Linked DNA regions of Homo sapiens. The protein of the gene in region 3 interacts with the protein of the main gene of each other region in a biochemical or structural test. Each region holds a gene or a part of one and is shown on either strand. Other genes may lie near its edges. The genes, in order: USP29, CSNK1G3, CLSPN and TIPIN.

Region 1 (7,579 bases), on a different chromosome or scaffold from region 3:
GAAAATGATGAAGCCTACCTGTCTTTTGAACTCAGCTCAGGGAAAAGCTGATGATCTCTAATTTTTGTGATTCCTCCTTTCATTAAATTTAAGGTCCAGTGAGGGTGAAGTTTCCCTAAAGAGGCAATAATTTATCAGCAGCAACAGGATGAAATGGAGGGGCTTTTCTTCACACTCTATATATTATGTTAGGATCTCTCAGGAAACTGAGGACACATTAATTATAATCATGGAAGATTTTCTGCTTCCCACATGGTTTGCTGGGTTTGGCATAGTATAGCTCATGCCCTACATTGAAGAAATGTGGGCACCCATCAACAGCAGCCATTTCTGATTACACATCCCTGTTTCTTTAGCTGAGTGACTCCTAAAAGTCCCTTAATGTATTAATAATGCATTTGGACCTCAGTTTTCTTACTATGTTAAATGTAATAAAATTGAATATCATATGGTCACTTGCAGAATTAAATGGTATTAAGGCATGTAAATCATATAGAGTGATGTAGTACAACAAACAATAAACCTGTAATAAAAGTCACTAAACTCCCTTCCCTCCCATGATGGAGCCTTAATTTTCTCTATATGAGGCATCCCTGTAGTTTAATATATTCTTAGAATTAGCAATAGGAATATGATGTCAACAATTAATTTTGAGCCATTTTAGCCCAATGACTTATCCTAAGAAGTCGCTATTATTGTTGCCATCCCGTTTTCACTTATACGAAAGTAAGACTCAGGAGGGTTGAGTTTCAGCCTTAGTGTTAGAAAAGCAGTAAGCGGTGAAGCCGGGCTTGGAATCCTGGAAGTTGGAATGTACAATGTGTGATCTCGATGCATCCTCTCTGTAGTGCCTCTTTGTAACAAGAAAAAAATAAAGATACTTAAAGTTCTAGGTAAGCAAAGTCAGAACTAGTCTTTAAGTTAGAGACCCATAAAGTATAAGGTTTCTCAAACAACAAATGTTGTTAGAAGGTCTTGTTGTGGCAGAGTTCCAAGAAAACCAATGAATGTGAAGTCAGTTGATATATTAATCTAATCTGTGTAATTGGGGAGGGGCACTTTTAGGAATGCATTTAGAGATAATCCCATTAACACAGGAGGTTTTCTCCCAGATTAAATTAACGTAAACGACTTTGGAGGAAGGTTGGTTTTCCCAGTTTCTAAGATATAATGCAATAAATTAACATGAAAGATGGTTGGGACTATGTGCAGACTTTTTAAATAAACCTCAGTTTCAGGACTCTGACCTTTTTGTTTCTTCCTAGTAACAGCCGTGGCAGTCAGAGCTCTGCCTGCAGTGTGACCATGGACAGCTCTCCAAAGCTTAAACTTCAGTAAATTGACTCAAGTTTCTTCGGAAAGAACTGTGAGTAGCAAAGGGCAACTTTTTCTGTTGGTTTCATTGGGATTTCACTGCTTTTCCTGAAATTGGAATGTTGGAAGGAAGTAGGCATTCCTCACTGCCTGGGGAGAAATGGGCAAATGAGTAAGGGGAGGGAGCAAATTCAGAGAGATATTTTTTATTTTTTCTGAAACCTGTTTGTGTTTTGAGATGTCTTTCCCTTCATGTTTTTTTTTTTTTCACTCTTCATATTTCCCTTTCTCTGTCTCTCTCCCCACCTCGGTTTTGCTAATTAGCTAGCACAACAACTCGCCATCTTACTCCTTTTCCTTACTCCCTGTTTTTTGTGGGGTTTTTTTTTTGGTTTTCTTTTTTGTTTTTTTTTTGTTTTTGTTTTTGTTTTTTGTTTTTCAGACAGAGCCTTGCTGTGTCTCCCCAGCTGGAGTGCAGTGGCGAGATCTCTGTTCACTGCAACCTCCACCTCCAGGGTTCAAGCGATTCTCCTGCCTCAGCCTCCCCAGTATCTGGCACTATAGGTGCCTGCCACCATGCCCGGCTAATTTTTGTATTTTTAGTAGAGACCAGGTTTCACCATGTTGGCCAGGCTAGTCTCAAACTCCTGACCTCAGGTGATCCACCTGCCTCAGCCTCCCAAAGTGCTGGGATTACAGGTGTGAGCCACCGTGCCCAGACAGAACTTCTTTATTTTTGCCTTAATTTTGTTATTTAACCAGTAGTCATTCAGGAGCATCATATAGAGTGATGTAGTACAACAAACAATAAACCTGTAATAAAAGTCACTAAACTCCCTTTCCTCCCATGATGGAGCCTTAATTTTCTCCATATGAGGTAGTTTAATATATTCCTAGGATTAGCAATAGGAATATGATGTCGACAATTAATTTTGAGCTGTTTTAGCCCAATGACTTATCCTAAGAAGTCGTTATTATTGTTGCAGTCCCATTTTCACTTATGTGAAAGTAAGACTCAGGAGGGTTGAGTTTCAGCCTTAGTGTTACAAAAGCAGTAAGTGGTGAAGCCAGGCTTTCCATGTAGTTGTGTGGTTTTTAGTGAGTTTCTTAATCCTGAGTTATAATTGGATTGCACTGTGGTCTGAGAGCTTGTTTGTTATGATTTCCGTTCTTTTGCATTTGCTGAGGAGTGTTTTACTTCGAATTATGTGGTCAATTTTAAAATAAGTGCTATGTGGTGATGATAATATTGATCTATCTAATATTAACAGGGGGGTGTTAAAGTCTCCCACTATTATTGTGTGGGAGTCTAAGCCTCTTTGTAGGTCTCTAAGAACTTGCTTTATGAATCTGGATGCTCCTGTATTGGGTGCATATATATTTAAGATAGTTAGCTATTCTTGTTGCATTGATCCCTTTACCATTATGTAATGCCCTCTTTGTCTTTTTTGATCTTTGTTGGTTTAACATCTGTTTTATCAGAGACTAGGATTGCAACCCATCCTTTTTTTTGCTTTCCATTTGCTTGGCAAATATTCCTCCATCCCTTTATTTTGAGCCTATGTATGTCTTTGCACATGAGATAGGTCTCCTGAATATAGCACATCAATGGGTCTTGACTCTTTATCCAATTTGCCAGTCTGTATCTTTTAATTGGGGGCATTTAGCCCATTTACATTTAAGGTTAATGTTGTTACGTGTGAATTTGATCCCATCATCATGATGCTAGCTGGTTATTTTGCACATTAGTTGATGCAGTTTCTTCTGTGTCATTGGTCTTTATATTTTGGTGTGTTTTTGCAGTGGCTGGTACCGGCTTTTCCTTTCCATATTTAGTGCTTCCTCCAGGAGCTCTTGTAAGGTAGGCCTGGTGGTGACAAAATCCCTCAGCATTTGCTTGTCTGTAAAGGATTGTATTTTTTCTTCGCTTATGAAGCTTAGTTTGGCTGGATATGAAATTCAGGGTTGAAAATTCCTTAAGAACGTTGAATATTGGCCCCCACTGTCTTCTGGCTTGTAGGGTTTCTGGAGCAATCCACTATTAATCTGATGGGCTTCCCTTTGTGGGTAACCCGACCTTTCTCTCTGGCTGCCCTTAACATTTTTTTCCTTTGTTTCAACCTTGGAGAATCTGACGATTATGTGTCTTGGGGTTGCTCTTCTCGAGGAATATCTTTGTGGTATTCTCTGCATTTCCTGAATTTGAATGTTGGCCTGTCGTTCTAGGTTGGGGAAGTTCTCCTGGATAATATCCCAAAGTGTGTTTTCCAACTTGATTCCATTCTCCCCGTCACTTTCAGGTATACCAATCAATCGTAGGTTTGGTCTTTTCACATAGTCCCATGTTTCTTGGAGCCTTTGTTCATTCCTTTTCATTCTTTTTTCTCTAATCTTGTCTTCACGCCTTATTTCAGTAAGTTGATCTTCAATCTCTGATGTCCTTTATTCTGCTTGATTGATTTGGCTATTGATACTTGTGTATGCTTCACGAAGTTCTCATGCTGTGTTTTTCAGCTCCATCAGGTCATTTATGTTCCTCTCTAAACTGGTTATTCTAGTTAGCAATTCCTGTAGCCTTTTATCAAGGTTCTTAGCTTCCTTGCATTGGGTTAGAACATGCTCCTTTAGCTCAGAGGAGTTTGTTATTACCCACCTTCTGAAGCCTAGTTCTATCAATTCATCAATCTCATTCTCTGTCCAGTTTTGTGTCCTTGCTGAACAGGAGTTGCGATCATTTGGAGAAGAGACATTCTGTTTTTTGGATTTTTCAGCGTTGTTGTGCTGGTTTTTCCTCATCTTTGTGGATTTATCTACCTTTGATCTTTGAGGCTGTTGATCTTTGGATGGGGTTATTGTGTGGGGGTCTTTTTTGTTGATGTTGATGTTGTTGCTTTCTGTTAGTTTTTCTTCTAGCAGTCAGGCCCCTCTTCTGCAGGTCTGCTGCAGTTTGCTGGAGGTCCACTCCAGACCCTTTTCACCTGGGTATCCCCAGCGGAGGCTGCAGAGCTGCAGAACAGCAAAGAGTGCTGCCTGTTCCTTCCTCTGGAAGATTTGTCCCAGAGGGGCACCAGCCTGATGCCAGCCAGAGCTCTCCTGCATGAGGTGTCTCTCAACCCCTGTTGGGAGTTCTTTCCCAGTTAGAAGGCACGGGGGTCAGGGACCCACTTGAGGAGGCAGCCTGTCCCTTAGCAGAGCTGTTGTGCTGTGCTGGGAAAATCCCTCTTATCAGGATCAGCTGCTCTCTTCAGAGCCAGCAGGCAGAAAAGATTAAATCTGCTGAAGCTGTGTGCCCACAGCCACCCCTTCCCCCAGGTGCTCTGTCCCAGGGAGATGGGAATTTTATCTGTAAGCCCCTGACTGGGACTGTTACCCTTTCTTCAGAGATGCCCTGACCAGTGAGGAGGAATCTAGAGAAGCAGTCTGGCCACAGCTGCTTTGCCATGCTGTGGTGAACTTTGCCCAGTCCAAACCTCCCACCCTCCTTAGCACTGTCCAGGGAAAACTCTACTAACGCCTCATTAATCACGGATGCGCCTCCCCCAACCAAGTTCCATCATTCCAGGTCAACTTCAGACTGCTGCACTGGCAGTGAGAATTTCAAGCCAGTGGTTCTTAGCTTGCTGGGCTCCATGGGAGTGGGACCTGCTGAGTGAGATCACTTGGCCCCCTGGCTTCAGCCCCCTTTCCAGGGGAGTGAATGGTTCTGTCTCACTGGGGTTTCAGGCACCACTGGTGTACAAAAAAAAATCAACTCTTGCAACTAGCTCGGTGTCTCCCCGAACAGCTGGCTAGTTTTGTGCTTGAAACCCAGGGCCCTGGTGGTGTAGGCACACAAGGGAATCTCCTGATCTGCAGATTGCAAAAACTGTGGGAAAAGCGTAGTAACCGGGCGAGTAGCATAGTTCTTCACGGCTTCCCTTGGCTGGGGGAGGGAGGTCCCTGGCTCCTTGCATTTCCCAGGTGAGGCAATGCCCCACCCTGCTTCTGCTCGCCCTCCATGGGTTGCACCCACTGCCTAACTAGTCCCGATGTGATGAACTGGGTACCTCAGTTGGAAATGCAGAAATCGCCCACCTTCTGCATTGGTCTCGCTGGGAGCTGCAGAGCGGAGCTGTTCCTATTTGGCCATCTTGGCCCCGCCCCTTTTTTAATTTTAAAAAATTTTATGTAGCGATGAGGTCTCCCTATTTTGCCATGCTGGTTTTGAACTCCTGGGCTCAAGTGATCCTTCCACTTGGCCTCCCAGAGTGCTAAGATTACAGGCGTGAGCCACCATGCCCAACCAAATTTGTATTTTCTCGATGAGCAGTGATGCTGAGCACCTGTTCATATCTCTGTTGGCCATTTGTATATTCTTTCTCGCCTAACAGCTCCCTTGAAAATGCGTGTGCCTCAGTCTATGTCTTCTGGAGAACTGGCACAGCTTCAGAATATTAGCACCCCAAAAGAGTATTTTACTTAGAGCATAAGAAGACTAAAAATAAATCATTATTATATGTGGATGAGGTTTTTCATAAAATATAACTGTTAATATATTCTTGGTTAAAATGCATGTGTGCTTTTCTTCTTTAGGTTACATAAAGAAAGGATGATATCTCTAAAGGTATGTGGATTCATCCAAATTTGGAGCCAGAAGACTGGGATGACTAAGCTGAAAGAAGCTCTCATTGAAACAGTGCAAAGACAAAAGGAAATTAAACTGGTGGTCACTTTCAAATCTGGAAAATTTATAAGAATTTTTCAGCTGAGCAACAACATTAGAAGTGTGGTCCTTAGACATTGTAAAAAAAGACAAAGTCACCTGCGTTTAACTTTGAAAAACAACGTGTTCTTGTTTATTGACAAATTATCCTACAGAGATGCTAAACAGTTGAATATGTTCCTGGACATAATCCACCAAAACAAATCTCAGCAACCCATGAAATCTGATGATGATTGGAGTGTGTTTGAAAGCAGGAATATGCTGAAGGAAATTGACAAAACTTCATTTTACAGCATTTGTAACAAGCCAAGTTATCAGAAGATGCCTTTGTTTATGTCAAAATCACCAACACATGTGAAAAAGGGGATATTAGAAAATCAAGGTGGGAAGGGGCAAAACACACTATCATCTGATGTACAGACAAATGAGGACATTCTGAAGGAAGATAACCCTGTACCAAACAAGAAATATAAGACAGATTCCTTGAAATATATACAAAGCAATAGGAAGAACCCATCAAGTTTAGAGGATTTAGAAAAAGATAGAGATTTGAAACTCGGGCCTTCATTCAATACCAACTGTAATGGAAATCCTAACCTAGATGAGACTGTTCTTGCAACCCAGACTCTCAATGCCAAAAATGGTTTGACATCTCCATTGGAACCAGAGCACAGCCAGGGTGACCCAAGATGCAACAAAGCCCAGGTGCCTCTTGACTCTCATTCACAGCAACTGCAGCAGGGGTTCCCCAATTTGGGAAACACCTGTTACATGAATGCAGTTTTACAATCGCTATTTGCAATTCCATCTTTTGCTGATGACTTACTCACTCAAGGTGTCCCATGGGAATATATTCCCTTTGAGGCTCTTATTATGACCTTGACCCAGCTGCTTGCTTTGAAAGATTTCTGTAGTACAAAGATCAAGAGAGAATTACTTGGGAATGTTAAAAAAGTCATTTCAGCAGTTGCAGAAATATTTTCTGGCAACATGCAGAATGATGCTCATGAGTTTTTAGGTCAGTGTTTAGACCAGCTGAAAGAAGACATGGAAAAATTAAATGCCACTTTGAATACTGGGAAAGAATGTGGGGATGAAAATTCATCTCCACAAATGCATGTTGGTAGTGCTGCCACCAAAGTGTTTGTTTGCCCTGTTGTTGCTAATTTTGAGTTTGAATTGCAGCTCTCCCTTATTTGTAAAGCTTGTGGTCATGCTGTTCTCAAGGTAGAACCTAATAATTATCTCTCCATCAACCTGCACCAAGAAACAAAACCACTTCCTTTGTCCATTCAGAATTCTTTAGATCTTTTCTTTAAAGAAGAAGAGCTTGAATATAACTGTCAGATGTGTAAGCAGAAGAGTTGTGTTGCAAGGCATACATTTAGTAGGCTCTCCAGGGTCCTTATCATTCATCTGAAACGCTATAGCTTCAACAATGCTTGGTTGCTGGTGAAGAATAACGAGCAAGTTTATATTCCCAAATCTTTAAGTTTATCTTCTTATTGCAATGAAAGCACCAAACCACCTCTTCCCTTGAGCAGTAGTGCACCTGTTGGGAAA
Region 2 (7,579 bases), on a different chromosome or scaffold from region 3:
GCCACTAGAATAGCTACAATGAAAAAGACTGACAACTCTAAATGTTGTCAAGATTATGAAACAAACAAAATTCTCATTCATTACTGATGGAAATAAAAAAAGGTATGAACACTCCTGAGAACAGACAGGCAGTTTCTTATAAAGTTAAATAATACCTGCCATAGGACCAAACTGAAAAATATGCCCACAAAAAGATTTGTAAGAATATTATACAAGTTTTATTCATAAGTCAAAAACTTAATCCAAATATCCATCAACATTCAAATGGATAAGCAGTTTGTGATATGTTTATGCAATGGAATATTACTTAGCATTAAAAAAGAATAAACTACTGATACTTGCAACAACATAAATGAATCTTAAAGACATTATACCCACCAAAAGAAGTTGGATGGTTCTATTTATATTAAGTAATAGAATCAGCAAAACTCATCTGTTGTGATAGAAATCAGATCAGTGATTGCTTCTAGAAAAGGAGGGGAATGACTAAGATGGGTAAAATGGAAGTCTATAGGATAATGATAGTGTTCTAAATCTTGATAGTGTGTGGGTTACATAGTATGCACATTCATCAATACTCACAAATTATATAATCAAATGTTGTATATTTTACCCAATGTAAATTTTACTTCAATAAAAAAAAAACTCTTCAATAAAATAAGAATTACAAATGTTATAATTCTATTAGACTTGCTATATAAAGTGGTATCATTTGGCAATCTGAAACTACTTTCTGAGTATCCTCAGCTTTTAAAAACAAGTAAATATATTGTAAGTAGTGATAGCCAGATTTCTCACTGTTAAAAAAAAAGATACAAATATGGAAAAGGGATGGAATTACAAATATAGAAAAGGGAAATACTATTTTGTACTGACAGACTGAAATTAAAAGTGTATCAGTATAAACTCAAAATTTTTAACAGATATTAACGTATGTCTCTGTGTGTGTGTATACATACGTATATATGTAGGCATATTTCTATGTGTGTATGTATATACATATATGCACAAACATTTCCTAGTTCTGCTGCAGAAAGGGCCTGGCAGTAACAACATACCACAGTAATGAGCATATCCAGTGGCCAAATCTTGGTTTCTAAATACCATTATCCAATAAAAGGATTCAGAACTTCTTGGAGAAAAGGACTGATTATGGGGCTGCAGAAGAGAAACTACAAGATGAGTTTGTTTATAAGAACTTGCTGCACCAAAAGAAAGAAAGTACTCAAAGATTCATGAGAACATGTCAAAAGGACAGAGAAGCCAGCTTGAAGGAGCAACGGGTGGCCAAATCTGGAACCCTTTGGCTATCAGAATAAATAATGATAATGCATTCAATACATTACATTAAATAAGATAAGAATTAATAAGTTCATATAGACATAAGTCAATAACTGGGGGAGAAGGTAAAGCTTCTGCTGACATTAGAATATCAACTGACAAATAAGGAAATGTAAATATTAGAAATAATGGAGTTAGAAAATCATCAATGGATGCTAAATCTAGAGGGCAAAAATCTGATGAGGAACAACATGTTTACATAATCCCAAAATCTAACTACAAGAAACTTTTCAGTAGAGAAATTTGGCAGATATCGTCCAAGCAAGTGATCCCAACATGATGCACTAAGAACACATCACTTCTGTGATATTTGTGCTCAAAATGCCTACCCAAATCTAGTCAAAAAGAAATAACAGACCCAAATTGGAGATATCCTATAAAATAGCCTGTGCTCCTAAAAAATATTAAGGTCATGAGCCATAACGAACGACTGAGGAACTGTTCCAGATGAAAATGATTTAAGGGATATGATAAATATGAATCTGGGTGAAGGAAGAATGCTATAAAAAATCCTGTGAAGTTGATATTGTTTTACTCTTTTTACCAATAAGAAACCCCTTAAAAAGGTTAAACTTGTCCGAAGTCATAGTTAGCATACAGGTAAGCCAGCTCTGCCCACCTCTAAGGTATATGCTGTTAGCATTATACTTATTAGGCTAGTTGCTATTTCTGTGGCTAGCCATATTGGAGAGCTATGGTCTCAATCCAAAATTTCCACATGTACTGAATTCAGTTAAAATTTGGTATTCTCTCATATTTTGTAAGAGAAATGATTAAATGCATCCCCATAACTGTATCAAAGTTGAACACTTCAAGTTATATAAATACAAAAAATACAGTGAATGTAAAGATAGCTGTCACTCATTTACTCTATAGTAACTTACTTTCAAAGAGTTTTATTAAAATATAAGTGAAAGTAAACTCTAGGTAGATGTGATAAATGAAAATTATAATAAAAGCTATTATAATCTGCAAAAACTGAACCATAACAAATAAAAACTCACAGTGTTAGCACAGCTGCTAAGTTCAAACTTCCATACTTACGAAAGGTACACATACCTTTTCCTAAATGTGTGTTTATGCTCATATATCTAGCTGTTCCTGTAAGGCTCTTGTGTTCTCTGTATGGTATGTGTTTCTTTGTCTCCGGATCAATATATTCCTTTGCCAAACCAAAATCTATAATGTGAATAACTTGCTGGGTTTTGTTTCCTGGTCGTCCTATTAAGAAGTTCTCAGGTTTTACATCTCTGTATATCAAGTTCTTTGAATGGACATATTCCATGCGAGAAATCTTGGTTTAAGAAAAAAAGAAGAGAAGTTTTATTTTGGGCTTTGACTAGCCTAAGCAAGTATGATAAAGGCAAGACAGAATGAAAACATACAAAAGAAATAAATCAGAAATTGTTTCAACCCTTTAAAAGTAAAATGATGTCAGCCTATCATTCTTCACATAGCAAATTGCAATTTAAAATCTTTGCCTTTACTGTTATGGTCACTGCTAAACGAGAGTATTTGAATTTTATGAATTCCTTTCATATCAGCAAGCCTGATTCAATGAACACTTTCAGAGGATGCTACTTCATAAAATCAAAAAGCCACATTGATATAAGACCTTGAACCCAAAAGTATAAGCAGACATATGCAAAACATTGCAATATAATCTTCCTTATCAGTTCAATAACCAAGCAACTTTTACAAGTATATTAAAGAAACTTAAGAGTCTAAACTATTAAGTAAAAACAACAGCACTATTCAGTATCTTTTTCTTTTTCATAACATGTTTCCTTTACTTTTTCCTAGGTATTAAACATTTAAAAATGATTAATCTTGAAGCTAGAAAGATCATAAAGCTAGAAAAGTCTGAAATCCAACTCTAATATTAATAATATAGCTCATTTTTGTTAATTATTTTACAGATTCTCAATGTTCATTGTACAAACTGTCATAAAATAGAGTATTACAAATAAGAAAATAAAACTGCTTCATTTAGTGATAATCATGGTTAACAATGCAATGTAAACATATGGCTACACAGGCCATTCTAGTTTGTTTAACAAACTTTGCAGCATATAATGTACAATATTCTATGTCTATATATTCTTAATTAATGATATGAGCATTTGCAAAGTCATGAAATATTCTTTGTTTTGTTTGGGGGCAGTTGGTTGGTTTTTTGATGTTTTGTGTGTGGGGGCAGGGACAGGGTCTCACTCTGCCACCCAGGATGGAACGCATAGCTCATTGCAGCTTCAACCTTTAACCTCCGGGCTCAAGCAATCCTCTTGCCTCAACCTCCTCAGCAGTTGGGACTACACAAGCACACCACCACACCTGGCTTATTTTTTTTTTTATTTTTATTTTTGTAGAGACAGAGTCACACTATGTTGCCCAGATTGATCTTGAACTCCTGGGCTCAAGTGATCCTCTAGCCTCAGACTCCCCAAAGTGCTGGGATTACAGGCACAAGCCACCACACCTAGCCTATAAAACAATCTTTAATATGCACTTTTTAACAGCTGCATATTTTCCTCTGGATATTAATTTATTCAACTAACCCTGTTATTTCTGCATATTTGGGTTGCTTCTCCTTTTTTTATTATAAACATCCTTTCATATAAAGCTTTAAGTACCTATGAAAACATCCATAGGATAAATTTGTAGAATTAATGAGTCAATGAATAAAAACAATTTTAAGACTTCTGCAGCACACTTCTATTGGCATTTATTTCGAAACTGCCTTAAAATCACTCTCTAATTGTTATCCAACGGATTCCCTGAAGTCTAAGTAGTTTATCAAGACTCTCTCATTAGTCTGCCTCTTGTTTTTCCAGGTCATAAAGTCTATTACCAAAATTAAGAATCCATGTTTCTGGCCCGGCACGGTGGCTCACGCCTGTAATCCCAGAACTTTGGAAGGCCAAGGCGGGCGGATCACAAGGTCAGGAGATCGAGACCATCCTGACTAACATGGTGAAACCCTGTCTCTACAAAAAATACAAAAAATTGGTCGGGCGTAGTGGCATGCACCTGTTGTCCCAGCTACTCGGGAGGCTGAGGCAGGAGAATTGCTTGAACCCGGGAGGCAGAGGTTGCAGTGAGCCAAGATCTCGCCACCGCTCTCCGCCCTGGACAACAAAGCAAGACTCCGTCTCAAAAAAAAAAAAAAAAATCTATGTTTCTGAGGGTTCTCTTTTGAAGTAATCATCTTTTATATGAAGAAATGGCTAGCAACAACTTAATTTGCAAACTGAGCATTTTGATCTTAAAGCAATTATTAGTTTTTATACAAATAAAATATACTTGACTCAGTTATTTTAAGTTACATGGATCCCAGAAAGACAACATGAAAAGTAGAAACATTTGTATTACGTCAAACGCTCTGTAAGACAATATCACAGAACTTTAAACTTTTAATATGAATTTGTGACCAACAACCATGTAATTGTTCAAACAACTTCAAATACCTTATTTTACTTACCAGTTGTATAGCTATCATGAGAACTGTTTTAAGAGAAAATGTTCTGTCACACAAGTCAAACAAGTCTTCCAAACTAGGTCCCAGCAGTTCCAGCACCATAGCATTGTATTTACCACAAGGGCCGAAATAGTAAACTTGAGGTATACCATCTGGGGGAAAAGAAATACTCATTTAATAATTTCATCATCTTAAATACTAAGGTTTTCCTCTTAAAAACTGATATTTAAAATTTTATAGTTTCAAGAACTAAAGCAGTACTATCACTTTTTCCAGATACATACTTTTCCTGACCAAACCTCCCAACCTCCCAATACCTTCTCTTTGATGTTCACATTGTAGCCTGGATACACCTCTATTGCAGCTGCATGACTGAATTACATTATAAACAGTACTTCATTGTTTCTCTCTACCACCTTATTACTGGACAAAAGCTGGGCTTTTTAGCTTTATATTTCCATGGCCTGGAGAAAGGCTTAGCACATAGGAGAGATTCCAGTTCTACTGAAAAGAGAGTCACTACTGGCTTTAATAACCATGTGATAGGCATACTGCTAAGATCACCACTGTCAAGATTCCCATCCTCTGGCTTATACACCTTGTATAAACCCCTCCCTTTGAACGTGAGCATGATTCCTGGGATCTCACTATTGTGACCAGGCTAACTTATACGGCAAATGTAATTAAGGCTCCTATCAGTTGACTGTAAGTTGATCAGAAGGAAGAGAATCCTGGTGGACCTGACCTATTCAGGTGAGACTTTAAAAAGATAGTCTAGAAGTCAGAGATATTGGAAACAGCAGAGAAACTCTCCTGCTGGCCTTAAAGTAGCAAACCACCATGCAGTGGAGGGAGCCACATGCCAGATAGGAATCCTTGAGGAAGTAAGGGCCACACAGTTCTATTGCCATGAGGAATTGAATTCTGACAAGAATCAGTGAACTTGGAAGAGAGCACTGAGGCTCATGTAAGATTGCAGTCCAGGCTTACACCTTAATTTCCACATGGTAAGACTCTAAACAGAAGACCCAGCAAAGCCATGCCCGTATTCCTGACCCATAGAAATTGTGAGATAATAAAGTCTTTCATCTTAAGCCAGTAAGAGATAGTAATAATTCATTATGAAGCTATATAGAATAATACAAACTCCAAATATGAAGTCTGAATAATACAAACTCCAAATATGAAGTCATCTGTATTTTATTTTCAGAACTAACAGACTCCCAATAAACTGAAATGTAAGTGATCAATTTACTTTATATGGAAGTTGTCAGAATCAAAACAGAGTCACTTGTATTAAAACCCTGACAAACAGAGCTAGGGAAGGAGATGAAGGGAGGGTTCTCACACATATATATATATATGCCTGATAAGAAGAACTACCACAAAAGACTGCAAAAACCACAACCTGGAACAAAAGCCACCACAACTTTACAAAAAATTACTCTGTGAGGACATCTGCCCAGGAACTGCCTGTCCAACTTCAGACTGAGGCCATTCTTGTTAATGATCCTTGTAGCCAAGGGTAACTCTCTCAAAACAACTTATGTGACCCTCCTCATTTTTCCTTTAAAAACTCTTGTCTTCCTTTACCTCCCTGAATATACTCACATATATTCCCATTGTAATGCCCACTCGTAAATAACTATCATTTTCTTTTAGACAAGTCTCCCTATTATTTAGTTTGACACTTAACACTGCATTTATCTATTAGCATGAAAAAATGAACTTCTTCCACCACAAATGTCTCAGTTTTACTTCCAAGTGATTTTTTTTCAGTATATTGAAAGAGAAAACAAATCTAATGAAAACTTCTCATTCTTTTTAATAAAACGTTTTTTAAATATAACATTATTATTATTTACCCTATTATTTTGAATATAAATCATTGCAGGACAGAATAGAAAACACTGAACTAAAAACCAAGAAAACTACATTCTTAGTCTAACCTAATATTCATCAGCTGTGTGGCTAGCTTGTCATTCAACCTCTCAAGTGGGCCTCAGTTTACTTATCTATTATAATATTAGTGATTTGGATGAGACAAGTATTTCTCAGATATGAATATGAGTGAGGCAGCAGAACATCTGCAGGTGGGAATGTAAGCTAGTGTAATCACTGTAGTCCCAGCTACTCGGGAGGCTGAGGTAGGAGAATCACTTGAACCCAGGAGGCGGAGATTGCAGTGAGCCGGGACTGCGCCACTGCACTCCAGCCTGGGCGACAGAGCAAGACTCCTTCTCAAAAAAACAAAACAAAACAAAACAAACAAACAAAAAAAGATAGTGTAATCATAGCAGGAATGGATACAAATTCAAACTGCATACATGGTGCCCTCCCCAGAAACAGAGATTCTGATACACCCCAATGTGTATGTATCACCACCCCCTGCAAACACACACACATCACACACGCTTGTCCCATCTCCTCTTGCTACTGGGAATCAAAGACACTCCTACCACAGCCACTCTTAGATGTATTTGTCATATCTACCCCTCACATGTGTAAAGGTGGAGAAAAGGTTCAGAAACAGGGAATGAGAGGCTTGTTAAGTTTATTCCAACTCTAAAATCCTGCTTTTACAATGCTATATACATTAAGAAGCTGGAGATGCAATTAAGATTTACAGACAGCTCTCAGCTACCACAACATCGACAGCTCTCAGCTACTAAGCTTTGAAAATTCTTTCCATAATGCTTTTTCCCCCTCTCTGCCACTGAAAGTTGTTAATTTACATCCTCTCAATTTAACAATCTCTAA
Region 3 (7,579 bases):
AAAAGTTCACAGAAAACAGGGCTGTGATGGAATCTGTGTATAAACTGAATTCACTGCTTAGTGCCCTGATATTTAGAACTCTTACTTTCTTAGAGTGGTAAAGTATCAACTTAAGACTACTTTAGGCCGGGCGCAGTGGCTCACGCCTGTAATCCCAGCACTTTGGGAGGCCAAGGCGGGGGATTTCCTGAGCTCAGGAGTTCGCCACCAGCCTGGGCAGCACGGTGAAACCCCGTCTCTACTAAAATACAAAAAATTATCTGGGCATGGTGGCCCGTGCCTGTAATCGCAGCTACTTGGGAGGCTGAGACAGGAGAACTGCTTGAACCCCGGAGGTGGAGGTTGCAGTGAGCCGAGATTGTGCCACTGCACTCCAGCCTGGGCAACAGAGAGAGACTGTCTCAAAAAAAAAGTCTTGAAAAAAAAAAAGACTGCTTTAGCTTTGCCCATATATCATTTATGATTAATGTATGTACAAAGTTTAGAACAGTGTCTGATGTATAATAAATTTCATATAAATGTTAACTTACTTCCTGTTCCCTGCCCCCAATACACACAACTGCTAGATCGAACATAAGCTCTATGAGACCTGGGATAGTGGTTTGTTCATTACTGTATCCCTGGTGGCCTGGCACATATGGCACATAGTAAGCACTAAATAAGGATTTGTTGAATGAATAGATGGTAGGCTCTTCTTGGCAAGCTTACCTTAGAACTGTATCGAGCTGGCATGACTTTAGATGGCTGGGAAAAGAGTATAAAGCTATCATTCCTTGGTGACACATCTTTTCCTTGTTGTGATGTAGATGCCTCCACTCCAGCCTCATCAGAGTTAAATAAACAGGAGAAGGAGAGCAGCATGGGTGATCCAATGGAAGAAGCACTTGCTCTTTGCTCAGGCTCTTTTCCCACAGACAAGTAAGTCTCAGATTGCTGGGAATTTGGGAAGGCCTGGCCTTTTGATAAAATCAAAATAACTGATCATCTTAAGGGCTTTGCACCTTTTCTGAGAATCTTGCAGTGGATTTGAGTCTCATATATGCCTAGTAAGCAAATTATAATGCTTTGGTGGAGAACAGGGTAAAAAAGGCAAGAATATGAAAGCTATTTAATATCATTAATAGAGAAATGCCAATCAAAACCATAGTGAGACACCCATTAAGATGACTTTTATCAGAAAAACCCCAAGAGTGTTAGTGAGAATGTGGAGAAATTGGAAACCTTGTGTACTATTGGTGAGAATGTAAAATAGTGCAGCTGCCAGGGAAAGTATGATGGCTCCTCAAAAATTAAAAATAGAGGCCAGGCACGGTGGATCATCTGAGGTCAGGAGTTCGAGACCAGCCTGACCAACATGGTGAAACCCCGTCTCTACTAAATACAAAAAATTAGCTGGGCATGGTGGCGCATGCCTGTAATCCCAGCTACTTGGGAGGCTGAGGCAGGAGAATTGCTTGAACCCGGGAGGCAGAGGTTGTAGTGAGCCGAGATCATGCCATTGCACTCCAACCTGGGCAACAAGAACAAAACTCCGTCTCAAAATAAATAAATAAAAATAGAATGACCATATGATCCAGCAATTTCACTTCTTAGTCTGTACCCCAAAAAAGTGAAAGCAGGACTTGAACAGATATTTGCACCCCCATGTTCAAAGCAGCATTATTCACAGTAAGTAGTCAAAACATGAAAGCGACCTATGTTTATTGGCAAATGAATGGGTAAACAAAATGCGGTATATATGCAAAGGAATATTCAACTTAAAATGGAAATTCTGGCTGGGCATGGTGGCTCACACGTGTAATCCCAACACTTTGGGTGGCTGAGGTGGGCGCATCACTTGAGCTCAGGAGTTTGAGACCAGCCTGGATAATATGGCAAAACCCCATCCCTATAAAAAAAATACTAAAATTAGCTAGGCGTGTGCCGGCAGTACCAGCTATTCAGGGGGCTGAGGTGGGAGAATTGCTTGAGCCTGGGAGGTCAATGCTGCATTGAGCCATGATTGTGCCACTGCACTCTGGGCATCAGAGCAAGACCCTGTCTCAAAAAAAAAGAAGTTCTGACACTTGCTACAACATGGATGAACCTTAGAATGTTATGCTAAAAGAAATAAGCCAGTCACCAAAAGACAAATACTGTATGAGTCCACTTACATGAGATACTTAGAGTAGTCAAATGCATAGAGACAGAAGGTAGAATGGTGGTTGCCAGAGACTGAGGTTATAAGGAAATGGAGAGTGTAATGGGTATAGAGTTTTAGTTTTGCAAGCTGAAAAGAGTTCTGGAGATTGCTTAACAATATGAATGTACTTAACACTACAGAACTATAGAAAGATCGTTAAAAAGGCAAATTTTATATTATGTGTATTTTACCACAATTGAAAATTTAAAAAATTTTCTTCCTGTTTATTGAAGAGATTATTGGTGATAATAAAAGTTTTAAATTTGGCTGGGCGAGGTGGCTCATACCTATAATCCCAGTACTTTGGGAGCCCAAGGCAAGCAGATTGCTTGAATCCAGAAATTCAAGATGAACCTGGGCAACATGGTGAAATCTGTCTCTACAAAAATACAAAAATTAGCTGAACATGGTGGCTTGTATCTCTAGTCCCAGCTACTCAGGAGGCTGATGTGGGAGGATCACTTGAGCCCTGGAGGTGGAGGTTACAGTGAGCTGAGATGGTGCCACTGTATTCCAGGTGGTGTAAGAGACCAAGACTGTCTCAGAGAAAAAAAAAAAATTAACACACACAAAATTTTTTTTAATTCATAACTTGGCTGACTACTTGTAGTTTGCTTTCAACAACTTATTTATTGATTCATTGATTTACATTTTAGGGAAGAGGAAGACGAGGAGGAGGAATTTGGAGACTTTCGGCTTGTTTCAAATGATAATGAGTTTGATAGTGATGAGGTGAGTATGAAGGGAACAAAGTAATCATAACTGAGCTCCATGTATTGCTGCCCTCAAGTGTTTTTTTCCCCTCAGTTCTTGAGAATTCTAAGTTTGGCATCTTATCAGAAACAATTTCCTAGAATGAGGTATTTGGGCAGATGTTTATAAATCCTTTTTTCATTGAGGACGCATTTTATTCTGCTTAATTTGGATATGATGCTGATTTTGTAGGATGAACACAGTGACTCTGGTAATGATCTGGCACTGGAAGACCATGAAGATGATGATGAAGAAGAACTCCTGAAGCGATCTGAGAAGTTGAAAAGGCAAATGTACGTGTTATTAATATGTCCATTCCTTCAGGTGTATTTAAAATTTGGTCACTAGGCCAGGCATGGTGGCTTGCGCCTGTAATCCCATCATTTTGGGAGGCTGAAGCAGGCGGATCACCTGAGGTCAGGAGTTCAAGACCAGCCTGGTCTTGGTGACACAGGTCAAGAGATCGAGACCATCCTGACAAACATGGTGAAACCCTGTCTCTACTAAAAAATATAAAAATTAGCCAGATGTGATGACAGGTGCCTGTAGTCCCAGCTACTCAGGAAGCTGAGGCAGGGAGAATCGCTTGCACCCAGGAGGTGGAGGTTGCAGTGAGCCGAGATCGCACCACTGCATTTCAGCCTGGGTGACAGAGCGAGACTCTGTCTCAAAAAAAAAAAAAAAAAAAAAGTTGATCACTTAATATGTCCTGTGTGCTAATAACTGTGCTTTACAGGCATTAACATATTATCTTATGCCAGGCACAGTGGCTCACGCCTGTAATCCCAGCACTTTGGGAGGCCAAGGCAGGCATATTACTTGAGGTCAGGAGTTTGAGACCAGCGTGACCAACATGGTGAAACCCTCTCTACTAAAAATACAAAATACAAAATAAAATACAAAAATTAGCCAGGCATGGTTCTGGGCGCCTGTAGTGCCAGCTACTTGGGAGGCTGAGGCAGGAGAATTGCTTGAATATGGGAGGCGGAGGTTGCAGTGAGCCAAGATTGCCCCACTGCACTCCAGCCTGGGTGATAGAGCAAGACTCCATCTCAAAAAAATTATCTTATGAGTGGGTACTATTATTCTCCTCATTTTACAGTTGAAGGAACTGAGCCTCAGAAAGATTAAATTTACCCAAGATCACATAGCTAGAAGGCAGCAGAGGCTGGATTCAACTTAGATTAGGTGAAATCTCCCCTAACAGTCAGTTAATAGTTTGCCACTTTTTAACTTAAATCCTCCTGCCTCAGCTTCCCAAGTAGCTGGGACAACAGGCATGTGCCACCACACCTGGCTAATTCTTTCTATTTTTTGTAGAGATGGGGCCTTGCTTTGTTCCCAGGCTGGTCTTAAACTGTTGGCCTCAAGTGATCCTCCTGCCTCTGCTTCCCAAAGTCTGGGATTACAGGCATGAGCCACCAGGCCCAGCTTTTTTTTTTTTTTTTTTTTTTTTTTTTGAGACGGAGTCTCGCTCTGTCGCCCAGGCTGGAGGGCAGTGGCATGATCTCGGCTCACTGCAACCTCCGCCTCCCGGGTTCAAAGCGATTCTCCTGCTTCAGCCTCCTGAGTAGCTGGGAATATAGGCACGTGCCACCACACCCAGCTAATTTTTGTATATTTAGTAGAGACGGGGTTTCACCATGTTGGTCAGGATGGTCTCGATCTCTTGACCTCACGATCCACCCGCCTTGGCCTTCCAACATGCTGGGATTACAGGCGTGAGCCACCCCACCTGGCCGGCCCAACTCATTTTTTTGATATGCTGTTCTGGTCATGAAAGTAAAATATTTATTTTAGGATATTTAAAAGAATACAAACTGGGTGCAGTGGCCCACGCCTATAATCTCAGCACTTTGGGAAGCTGAGGCGGGTGGATCACCTGAGGTCAGGAGTTCGAGACCAGCCTGGCCAACATGGCGAGACCCCGTCTCTACTAAAAATACAAAATTAGCCAAGCGTGATGGCCAGTGCCTGTAATCCCAGCTACTCAGGAGGCAAAGCTGGAGAATCGCTTGAACCGGGAGGTGGAGGGTGCAGTGAGCTGAGATTGTGCCATTGCATTCCAGCCTGGGCGACGAGAGAAACTCCATTCTCCCCGACCCCCGCAAAAAAAGAATACAGAAAGATATAAATAAAAACTTATCCATGTCCACCATCCAGGATATAAATGAAAGTTAGTTTGTTCCCCTTAATCTTTTTTATGCATATATTTTTATATAGTTGAGATTTGTACAATCTTTCTATATGTATAATTTTGCATCTTTTTTTTTCTACTTAGCATATCCAGAAACATTTTCCTATGATGTTAAAAAAAGTTTTATAAAGATAATTCTAATAGGTATTTAATATTATATTGTATGTGAATGATTTGGAATTCACATATAGGACATCATATTGATCCCTATTAGATTTATATGGTTGCTTTTATCCCATCATTTCATTCTATTAAGATTCACTTTGGGTTCTAATTTATCACCTATCAAATTAACTCTCATACAGCTTTAGGTTATCCATAGATTTTTCTAAGGTAGTGGTTCTTCTCTGCAGAGCTCTTTGTTCAAATAAAATCTTTTAAAGAATGACAGATAAAAGTTGAACTGTTCAAAGATGGTAAGTGGGAAGTTTGGGAAACTTAGTGACTAGTGGCCTCTGAAGGAATTTTCCAGGAACTCTAGGATTTAGAACAACTTAGCTTTAAGAAAATACAGTATAGGCTGGGCGTGGTGGCTCATGCCTGTAATCCCAGCACTTTGGGAGGCTGAGATGGACAGATCCCCTGAGGTCAGGAGTTCAAGACCACCCTGGCCAACATGGTGAAACCCTATCTCTACTAAAAAAACAAAAATTAGCCAGGCATGGTGGCACGCACCTGTAATCCCAGCTACTCGGGAGGTTGAGGCATGAGAATCACTTGAACCCAGGAGGTGGAGGTTGCAGTGAGCCGAGATGGCATCTCTGCACTCCAGCCTAGGCGACAGAGCGACACTTCATCTCAAAAAAAAAAAAAAAGAGAAAATACAGTATAGGTCTTCGATAAAAATCAGTTTTCAGAAAGCCACCAAACTTCTGCCATTTTGGACCACATGGGACCAAGGTGACTTTGAATCCAGGGTGACACCAGATTTATTCTCCGGGGGAGCTGAAGTCATAAGAAGTAACTAGTCGTTTTGATTACCAGGAGCTCTGAGCCTTAGTCTTCCTTCTGATGTGGGGGTCAAGATTTGTTAGGCTGTAAGAAGATCCCAGTTTATTACCTTTCTACACCACACCATCTCTAGTTTGTCTCTTAAAGCTGGTGTGCTCAAATGCAAAATGAAATAGTTTGAACCTTCCAGCAGGTATTCTAATACATGTAAAAGAGATTAAGAGTTTTCTGGCTTTCAAATCACCCAATCTAAGTTGAATCCAGGCTCTGCTACCTTCTAGCTATGTGACCTTGGGTAAATGTAATCTTTCTGAGGCTCAATTCCCTCAACTGTAAAATGAAGAGAATAATAGTACCCATTCCTATGATAATATGTTAATGCCTGTAAAGCACAGTTATTAGCACACAAGACATATTAAGTGATCAACTTTTAAATACAGATGCTCCACATCTTACAATGGGACTATATCCTGATCAATCCATCATAAGTTGAAAATGCACTTTCATATTATCCAGATATAACTCCATCGTAAATCGAGAAGCATACTAAGTGCGTATCACATTCATGTCATCGTAAAGTTGAAAAATCATTAAGTCAAACCATCATAAGTGGAGACTATTACAAAAAAATTTAAATATTATCAAATGTATTATGTTTATTATTATTAGAAGTGACTCTGTTCTGCTTTTCTTTGCTTCCATATTCTGTGAGTATATTCATTGTTGCATTTTCTAATCCTCAAAATTGCTTTCTAGGAGGTTGAGGAAATACCTGGAGGATGAGGCAGAGGTGTCAGGAAGTGATGTGGGAAGCGAAGATGAGTATGATGGGGAAGAAATTGATGAATATGAAGAGGACGTAATTGATGAAGTACTTCCTTCTGATGAGGAACTGCAGAGTCAAATCAAGAAAATACACATGTCAGTATCCCAATAAGCCCTTCTGAGTAATAGGGTACATCTTAAGACAAGCCCTGTAACCAGCCAGAATGGTCCTTGTTTTGAACACCTTATTTCTCCTGTTGCAGGAAAACTATGTTGGATGATGATAAGCGACAGCTACGTTTATACCAAGAGAGGTACCTTGCTGATGGGGATCTGCACAGCGATGGTCCTGGGCGAATGAGGAAGTTTCGATGGAAAAACATAGGTATCTTGGTTGTTGTCTTTAAAAGCAATCAGTTACGGGCTGAGCATGGTGGCTCACGCCTGTAATCCCAACACTTTGGGAGGCAGAGGCAGGTGGATCACAAGGTCAGGAGTTCAGGACCAGCCTGAACAACATGGTGAAACCCCGTCCCTACTAAAAGTTCAAAAATTAGCAGGCTGTGATGGCACGCGCCTGTAATCCCAGCTACTCAGGAGGCTGAGGCAGGAGAATTGCGTGAACCCGGGAGACGGAGGTTGCAGTGAGCAGAGATCATGCCATTGCACTCCAGCCTGGGCGACAGAGCGAGACTCCATCTCAAAAAAAAAAAAAAAAAAGCAAACAGTTA
Region 4 (7,025 bases), on a different chromosome or scaffold from region 3:
TTTTAAATGTGTTTACATATTGGTCTTCTAGGTAAGGTTTCCTGAATGGGAAATTATCCTCAGGTTGATAACTCGAAAGAATGTTTTTCAGTACTGCCTTACTTAACTTCTCAATAACAACTGACACTTTTGGTCAGTTTTTTTCTGGGAAAAATGTTTACCTTAACTTCTAAGACATGCCGGTAATCCCAGCAGGAGGCAGAGGCAGACGGACCATGAGGTCAGGAGTTCGAGACCAGCCTGGCCAACACAGTGAAACCCCGTCTCTACTAAAAATATAAAAAAAATTTAGCCAGGTGTTGTGGCACGCACCTGTAGTCCCAGCTACTCAGGAGGCTGAGGCTTTCCTCCCTTTCTGGGCACTCCTCCTGGATTTTCTTTGCAGGTTTATCTTCTACCCCGGCCATTAAGTATCCAAGACTCCATCCTAGGGCTTCTTCATTCATTTATGCACAGAGCTTTAATAAGTACTGATTTATAGATGACTCCCTGATTTTTATCTCTACCCTAGGCCTTGACTCTGCGATCCAGATCACTACTTCCCATTTTACACTTCCTAAACGCCTGAAAGGCACCTGTAACTCAGCAGGTACAAAACCAAACTTCTAAATTTTCCTAACTCATTAAATGACATCTATCCAGCTATGCAATTCAGAAACCTACAAGTCATCTTTAGCAATTCCTTCCCCTATCCCACAGATCCTGCCCATCTTATTTCCTAAATATCCCTTGAATCTGTCTATTTCTCCTTATCTCTATAACCACTTCCCAACATTTCTTGCTTGCATTACTCCACTACTCTCATCCACTCGTCTCCTTCAATTGTCCCTATTACATCTAGACTGAATCTGAAAATATAAAGCTGATCACCTCACTTGGATTAAGTATTTCAATGGTTTCTGATTGCTCTTAAGATAAAGACAAAACTTCAAGGCCCTGTGTGATCCAGCCTCTTACTACCTCACCAGTCTCACTTCACACTACTCTATGCTTTTTCTTTCCTTGAAAGAGCTATATCCCTCAGGCCACTGGCTCTTTACAAATACTATTTCCTGTCTTGAAAAAGCTATTCCTTGACTCCTAATATCTTCCAGATCTCAACTATCACCTTTTCAAAAGTTTACCTCAATTTCTCTAAATCCTTCTTTAGTAAGCATTCATAGTGTCAAGTACAAGTGTCATGGCACTTATCCAGTTTCAATATCAGGTTTTATTTATACAGTTATTTATTGTTCGTCTCCCAAACTAGACTGTAGCTCAAAAAGGGCAACGAGGTTAAGTCTCTCTGTGTTACACAGCTGGAACCCCAATGCTGTTACACAGCAAGTGCTCAATATATATCTTTTTTTTTTTTTTTTTTTTTTGAGAAGGAGTCTCGGGCTCTGTCACCCAGGCTGGAGTGCAGTGGCGCGATCTCTGCTCACTGCAAGCTCCGCCTCCCGGGTTCTCGCCATTCTCCTGCCTCAGCCTCCCGAATAGCTGGGACTACAGGCGCCTGCCACCACGCCCGGCTAATTTTTTGTATTTTTCATAGAGACGGTGTTTCACCGTGTTAGCCAGGATGGTCTCGATCTCCTGACCTCGTGATCCGCCCGCCTCGGCCTCCTAAAATGCTGGGATTACAGGCGTGAGCCATCGCGCCCGGCCCCAGGTGCTCAATATATATTTGATGAATGATGGAATGCAAAAAAAAATTCCAGTTTCCCCAAATTGGAGTTAGACGATCTTTAAAATCTCACTAATTCTAAATTTCGGTTACCATAAATATAAAAGCAAAGCATCGGCTGGGCGCGGTGGCTCACGCCGGTAATCCCAGCACTATGGGAGGCAGAGGCGGACGGATCATGAGGTCAGGAGTTCGAGACCAGCCTGGCCAACACAGTGAAACCCCATCTCTACTAAAAATACAAAAAAAATTAGCGGGGCGTGGTGGCACACGCCTGTAGTCCCAGCTACTCGGGAGGCTGAGGCAGGAGAATCATTTGAACCCAGGAGGCGGAGCTTGCAGTGAGCCGAGACCGCGCCACTGCACTCCAGCCTGAGCGAAAGAGCGAGACTCCGTTTCAAAACAAAAACAAAGCATCAATTCCTGATCATGACCCACTGTAACTTCAAGCAAGCTACAAGAATCTATACTAGGGTTCAGACCTTTGAGGCTGACAGCGAGCTTTGAGTTTGATGACAGTACCTAAAATATATTAAGTGTACTCAGGAACTGGCCAAGCATGGGGTGGGGCTTGTCAGGAAACTGGTATTTCTTTCTTCTATTTGTAGTGAATAAGATGCTCAATAGACGACTTTTACTCCTCGTCAATGGTCGCATAACTGTCTCTTTTTAGACACTTATGAAATTGTCTGAACTTCCTCCTCTACTTCTCCAACTCCCAGAAGAGTGAAGGTAACAAATGTTATGTCCAAACCACGGTTTGTTCCCAGACCCTGGTTTCCAATGCCCACCTCTTTTCCAAGAAGTCCAAAGAGACGCCCCTCATCGCAAAGGAAGTGCTACCGTGCTGCCTCGATGTCCCCCTTGGGTGCCATCCCTGAAACATCGAACCTCCCATACCTCTTCTCCAGCCGTCCCCCTCATCCTCGTTCCCCGCCTACCCTCTCTTCAACTTCATTCATTCATCCAACATTCGCTGGGGGATTTCTACATTGACACGCCCCGGACAGAAGCCTGGGGTAAAGATGATCAGGAACACGTTCCCTCCCGCTAAGCGGCTTGGCAGAGTAAGAGGCATCCCAAAACCTAAGCAACCGGGACACGCGCCCACCTCCCCGCCTCTCCAGGCCGGGTCAGGTCGACCCCCCAACCTCCTGACCCCCTTCCTGCGACAATTAGGCTTTCCCGCTAGTCTGTCTGGCTCCCTGGCTCTTCCATCTGGCTCCCTGGCTAGTCCGACTCCCCTCTCCCCGCAAGAACTTCATTGGCCCGCCAGCCAGCTCTCACCTCACGCAGAAAACACGGGACACAGCGCGGACCTCGGCGTGCAGACTAAGCGCGCTTCTCGCGATACTCGGGAACTCCTGGGGCGAGAAGGGCCCGCAGCGTTTGGCGCCAAATCCGTGCGGGGGGCTGGGCGGAGCCTGCAAAACCCGCCTCTCAGGTTCCGCCCAGCACGCCGGTCCCGCCTTCGGTCCCACAATTTCCGCCCTACTGAATTCTTCAGAGGAACTCAGTTAAGCCTCCTTATTTGCATAAAGTTAATACTTGTTATTCTGGGGTTTTTCTTTTTTTTTTTTCTTGAGACTAAGTCTCGCTCTATCACTCAGGCTGGAGAGCAGTGATTCGATCTCGGCTGACTACAGTCTCTACCTCCCGGGCTGAAACGATCCTCCCACCTCAGCCTCCCTTCCCCGACTAACACCACCACACCGAATTTTTGTTTTAATGGGTTTTTGTTTGTTTGTTTGTTTGTTTTGCAAAGACGGGGATTAGTTGCCCAGGCTGGTGTCGAACTCCTTAGCTCAAGCGATCTTCCCACCTCAGCTTCCCAAAGTGCTGGGATTACAGGCGTGAGCCACTGTGCCCGGCACTTTAAACCTTGGAAATAGGTCTCGGTTTTTGGAAAACTGAGTTGTGGGAGGAGGAAAAAGGACAGAGGCAAGCAATAGTGAATAAGAAATTACCGCTTCTTCAGAGTTCATAGCAGAATGCTTCGAACTCAGAGTTTTATGAATTGTTTATTGAATAATAAGCTGAGAAAAGAGGTGGTAAAGAGAGGAAAAATAGGGCTGAACATAGACACTGGCCAGGTGCGGTGTGGCTCGCCTGTAATCCCAGCACTTTGGGAGGCCCAGGCAGGCGAATGGCTTGAGCCCAGAAGTTGAAGGCGGCAGTGACTAGGATCGCACTGCTGGCGATCCAGCTGGAGATCCAGTCTGGGTGACAGTGAGATCTTGTCGCAAAAAAAAAAAAAAAAAAAAAAAAAAAAGCGAGAGAGTGTGAATGTAAACAAAAAAAAATGTCAAAAATATGTTACTTGGGGCCGGGTGCAGTGGCTCACGCCTGTAATCCCAGCACTTTGGGAGGCCGAGGCGGGCAGATCACGAGGTCAGGAATTCGAGACCAGCCTAGCCAACGTGGTGAAACCCCATCTCTACTAAAAATACAAAAATTAGCCGGGCGTGGTGGCGCGCACCTGTAATTCCAGCTACTTAGGAGGCTGAGGCAGGAGTATCACTTGAACCTGGGAGGCAGAGGTTGCAGTGAGCTGAGATCATGCCATTGCACTCCGGCCTGGGCGACGGAGCAAGACTCTGTCTCAAAAAAAAAAAAAGTTATTTGGTCAGACTTGGTGGCTCATGCCTGTAATCTTAGCACTTTGAGAGGCTGACGCAGGAGGATTGTTTGAGCCCAGGAATTCAAAACCAGCCTGGGCAACATACTGAGACCCTGTCTCTATTAAAAAGAAAAAACATTTTTTAAAAAGTTAACTTTTCCATTTTTAAATAGTAAGTCCAAATATATTTGTATTTGTTTGTATACACACAAACATACACACACAACCTCAGAAAAATATATAACTAGAACCTATGCAATGAAAGTGGCATATGGGATAGAGTGGGATGGGAACTTAACTATAATTTTTTTTGAACATACAAATGTATTAACTATTCAAAAAACTAAATTTAAAAATGTTATCTGAAGCAAATATAGCATCATTAAGATTTGCCAAACCTAGAAGATAATTAGGGAATACTGGCAGCATTATTCTCTCCACTTTTCTTTCTTTCTCTCTGTCTTTTTTTTTTTTTCTTCTTTGAGATGGTCTCACTTTGTTGCTGAGGCTGGAATGCAGTGGTGCGATCACAGCTAGAATCAGGTGATCCTCCCTCCCCAGCCTCCCAGGTAACTGGCACTACAGGCTCGCACCACCACACCCAGCTAATTTTTTAAATTTTTTGTAGAGATGGGAGTTTCGCCATGTTGCCCAGGCTGGTCTCCAACGCCTGGTCTCCAGCGATCCTCCCCTCCTCAGCCTCCCAAGGTGTTGGGATTACAGGCGTGAGCCACCGCACCCAGCTACTTTTCTGTAGCTTGAAACATTTTATTAAAAATTTAAAAAGTGAAGCCAGGTGCAGTGGCTCACACCTGTAATCCCAGCACTTTGGGAGGCCAAGGTGGGTGGATCACCTGAGGTCAGGAATTCGAGACCAGCCTGGCCAACATGGTGAAACCCCGTCTCAATAAAAATACAATAATTAGCCAGGTGTGGTGGGTGCCTGCCTGTAATCCTAGCTACTCGGGAGGCTGAGGCGAGAGAATCGCTTGAACCCAGGAGGCAGAGATTGCAGTGAGCAAGATCACACCACGGCACTCCAGCCTGGGTGATATAACTAGACTCTGTCTCAAAAAAAAAAAAAAATTTAAAAAACACTGGGTCCCGGATGTCGAGGCTGCAGTGAGCCATGATCATGCCACTGCACTCCAGCCTGGGTAACAGAGTGAGACCCTGTCTCAAAACACACACACACACACACAGACACACACACACACACACACACACAAAGATAGAAAGTAAATTACCAATTCTGTCTAAAATTATGTGTGCACATGTATCTATGTGTCACATTTCCTTTATTTTATGATTTTATTTCTATACTTGTGAGATAATATATATTAATATTAAGCAATTAATAAAATTAACATAAATTTAGTTTTTTTTGTTTTTGAGACAGATTCTTATTCTGTCACCCAGGGTGGAGTGCAGTGGTGCAATCTTGGCTCACTGCAGCCTCAATCTCCTGGGTTCAAGAGATTCTCTGCCTCAGCCACTCGAATATCTGGGATTACAGGCAGGCACCACCATTCCCGGCTAATTTTTGTGTTTTTTGTATTTAGTAGAGATGGGGTTTCACCATGTTGGTCGGGCTGGTCTCAAACTGACCTCAAGTGATCCATCCACCTCAGCCTACCAAAGTGCTGGGATTACAGGCGTGAGTCACCTCACCAGGCCTAAAAGTTACATGAATTTGAATGAGAAATGTCCATTTCAGTAGTCTGAATTGTTGAGACAAGAGGCATTCTTTTAATTATCCAGGTAAGTTTATATACTATACTTTTTGACTAATAAAGTAAATGTAAAAGCACTCTGAGAAGTTAAAAAAAGTTATACACCTTCCCCACGCCGCCCCCAGCCTGCCAAAAACGAACAGAGCAGATACTGATACTCTTGAAGGTTTAAATCTCAGTTCCGTCATTTACTGGTTGGTGACTTTTAACTCTGATTCAGTTTCCTTTTTTTATTTTTGATCACCTGAGTTGGAGTGCAGTGACACAATCATAGCTCACTGTAACCGTGAACTTCTGATCTCAGGTGATCTTCCTAACTAGGCCTCCCAAAGTCCTGGGATTATAGACATGAGTCACCCCGTCTAACCCAGTTTCCTCATAGGGTTGTAAAGAGGAGTAAAAAACCATATTTAATGGTATGTTACTGTAGTATCGCAGGTACTTCAGAGTCTGAGGCAGGAGGATTACTTGAGCCCAGGAGGTCAAGGCCAGCCTGAGCAACATAGGGACATCCTATCCCTAAAAAATAAAAATAAAAGTAAAAGACATTAATACATTTTATATAACTATCCATATGATTTTTGGAATGTTTCACCCTTTCAGAAAATGTAAAGATTTTGGCCGGGCATAGTGGCTCACACCTGTAATCCCACCACTTTGGGAGGCTGAGACAGTAGGATTGCTTGAGTCCAGGAGTCCCGGACCAGCCTGGGCAACATGGTAAAACCCCATCGCTACAAAAAAGCAGGAAAAGAAAATGTAAAGATTTTGTTAACTGTTTGTTGTTTTATCTGAGTTACAACCACAGTTGTCAGTCATTGATATTGTCAATAACTAATTGTCCACCGGATGCAGTGGCTCCCGTCTGTAATCCCAGCACTTTGGGAGGCCAAGGCAGGTGGATCACTTGAGGCCAGGAGTTCAAGACCAGTCTGGCCAAAATAGTGAAACACCGTCTCTACTGAAAAAACAAAAATTAGGCCTGATGCAGGTGGCTCAGGCCTGT

Evidence for each region.
Region 1: of the proteins of CLSPN (region 3) and USP29, one has a biochemical effect on the other in vitro, tested with the Homo sapiens proteins (one study listed by BioGRID).
Region 2: of the proteins of CLSPN (region 3) and CSNK1G3, one has a biochemical effect on the other in vitro, tested with the Homo sapiens proteins (one study listed by BioGRID).
Region 4: the proteins of CLSPN (region 3) and TIPIN form a complex in vitro, tested with the Homo sapiens proteins (one study listed by BioGRID).

Annotation. Positions count from the first base shown.
Region 1 is NC_000019.10:57,122,774-57,130,352, forward strand, and holds part of USP29 (ubiquitin carboxyl-terminal hydrolase 29), read left to right. Parts: intron 1-1,265; 5' UTR 1,266-1,366; intron 1,367-5,886; 5' UTR 5,887-5,902; coding exon 5,903-7,579.
Region 2 is NC_000005.10:123,570,785-123,578,363, reverse strand, and holds part of CSNK1G3 (casein kinase I isoform gamma-3), read right to left. Parts: intron 4,972-7,579; coding exon 4,823-4,971; intron 2,636-4,822; coding exon 2,401-2,635; intron 1-2,400. UniProt on the Homo sapiens protein: Serine/threonine-protein kinase. Casein kinases are operationally defined by their preferential utilization of acidic proteins such as caseins as substrates. It can phosphorylate a large number of proteins. Participates in Wnt signaling.
Region 3 is NC_000001.11:35,738,790-35,746,368, reverse strand, and holds part of CLSPN (claspin), read left to right. Parts: intron 1-806; coding exon 807-918; intron 919-2,792; exon of another isoform or gene 2,793-2,838; coding exon 2,839-2,914; exon of another isoform or gene 2,915-3,127; coding exon 3,128-3,228; intron 3,229-6,839; coding exon 6,840-7,004; intron 7,005-7,111; coding exon 7,112-7,233; intron 7,234-7,579.
Region 4 is NC_000015.10:66,353,686-66,360,710, forward strand, and holds the start of TIPIN (TIMELESS-interacting protein), read right to left. Parts: upstream 3,001-7,025; 5' UTR 2,954-3,000; exon of another isoform or gene 2,458-2,953; intron 437-2,457; exon of another isoform or gene 313-436; intron 1-312.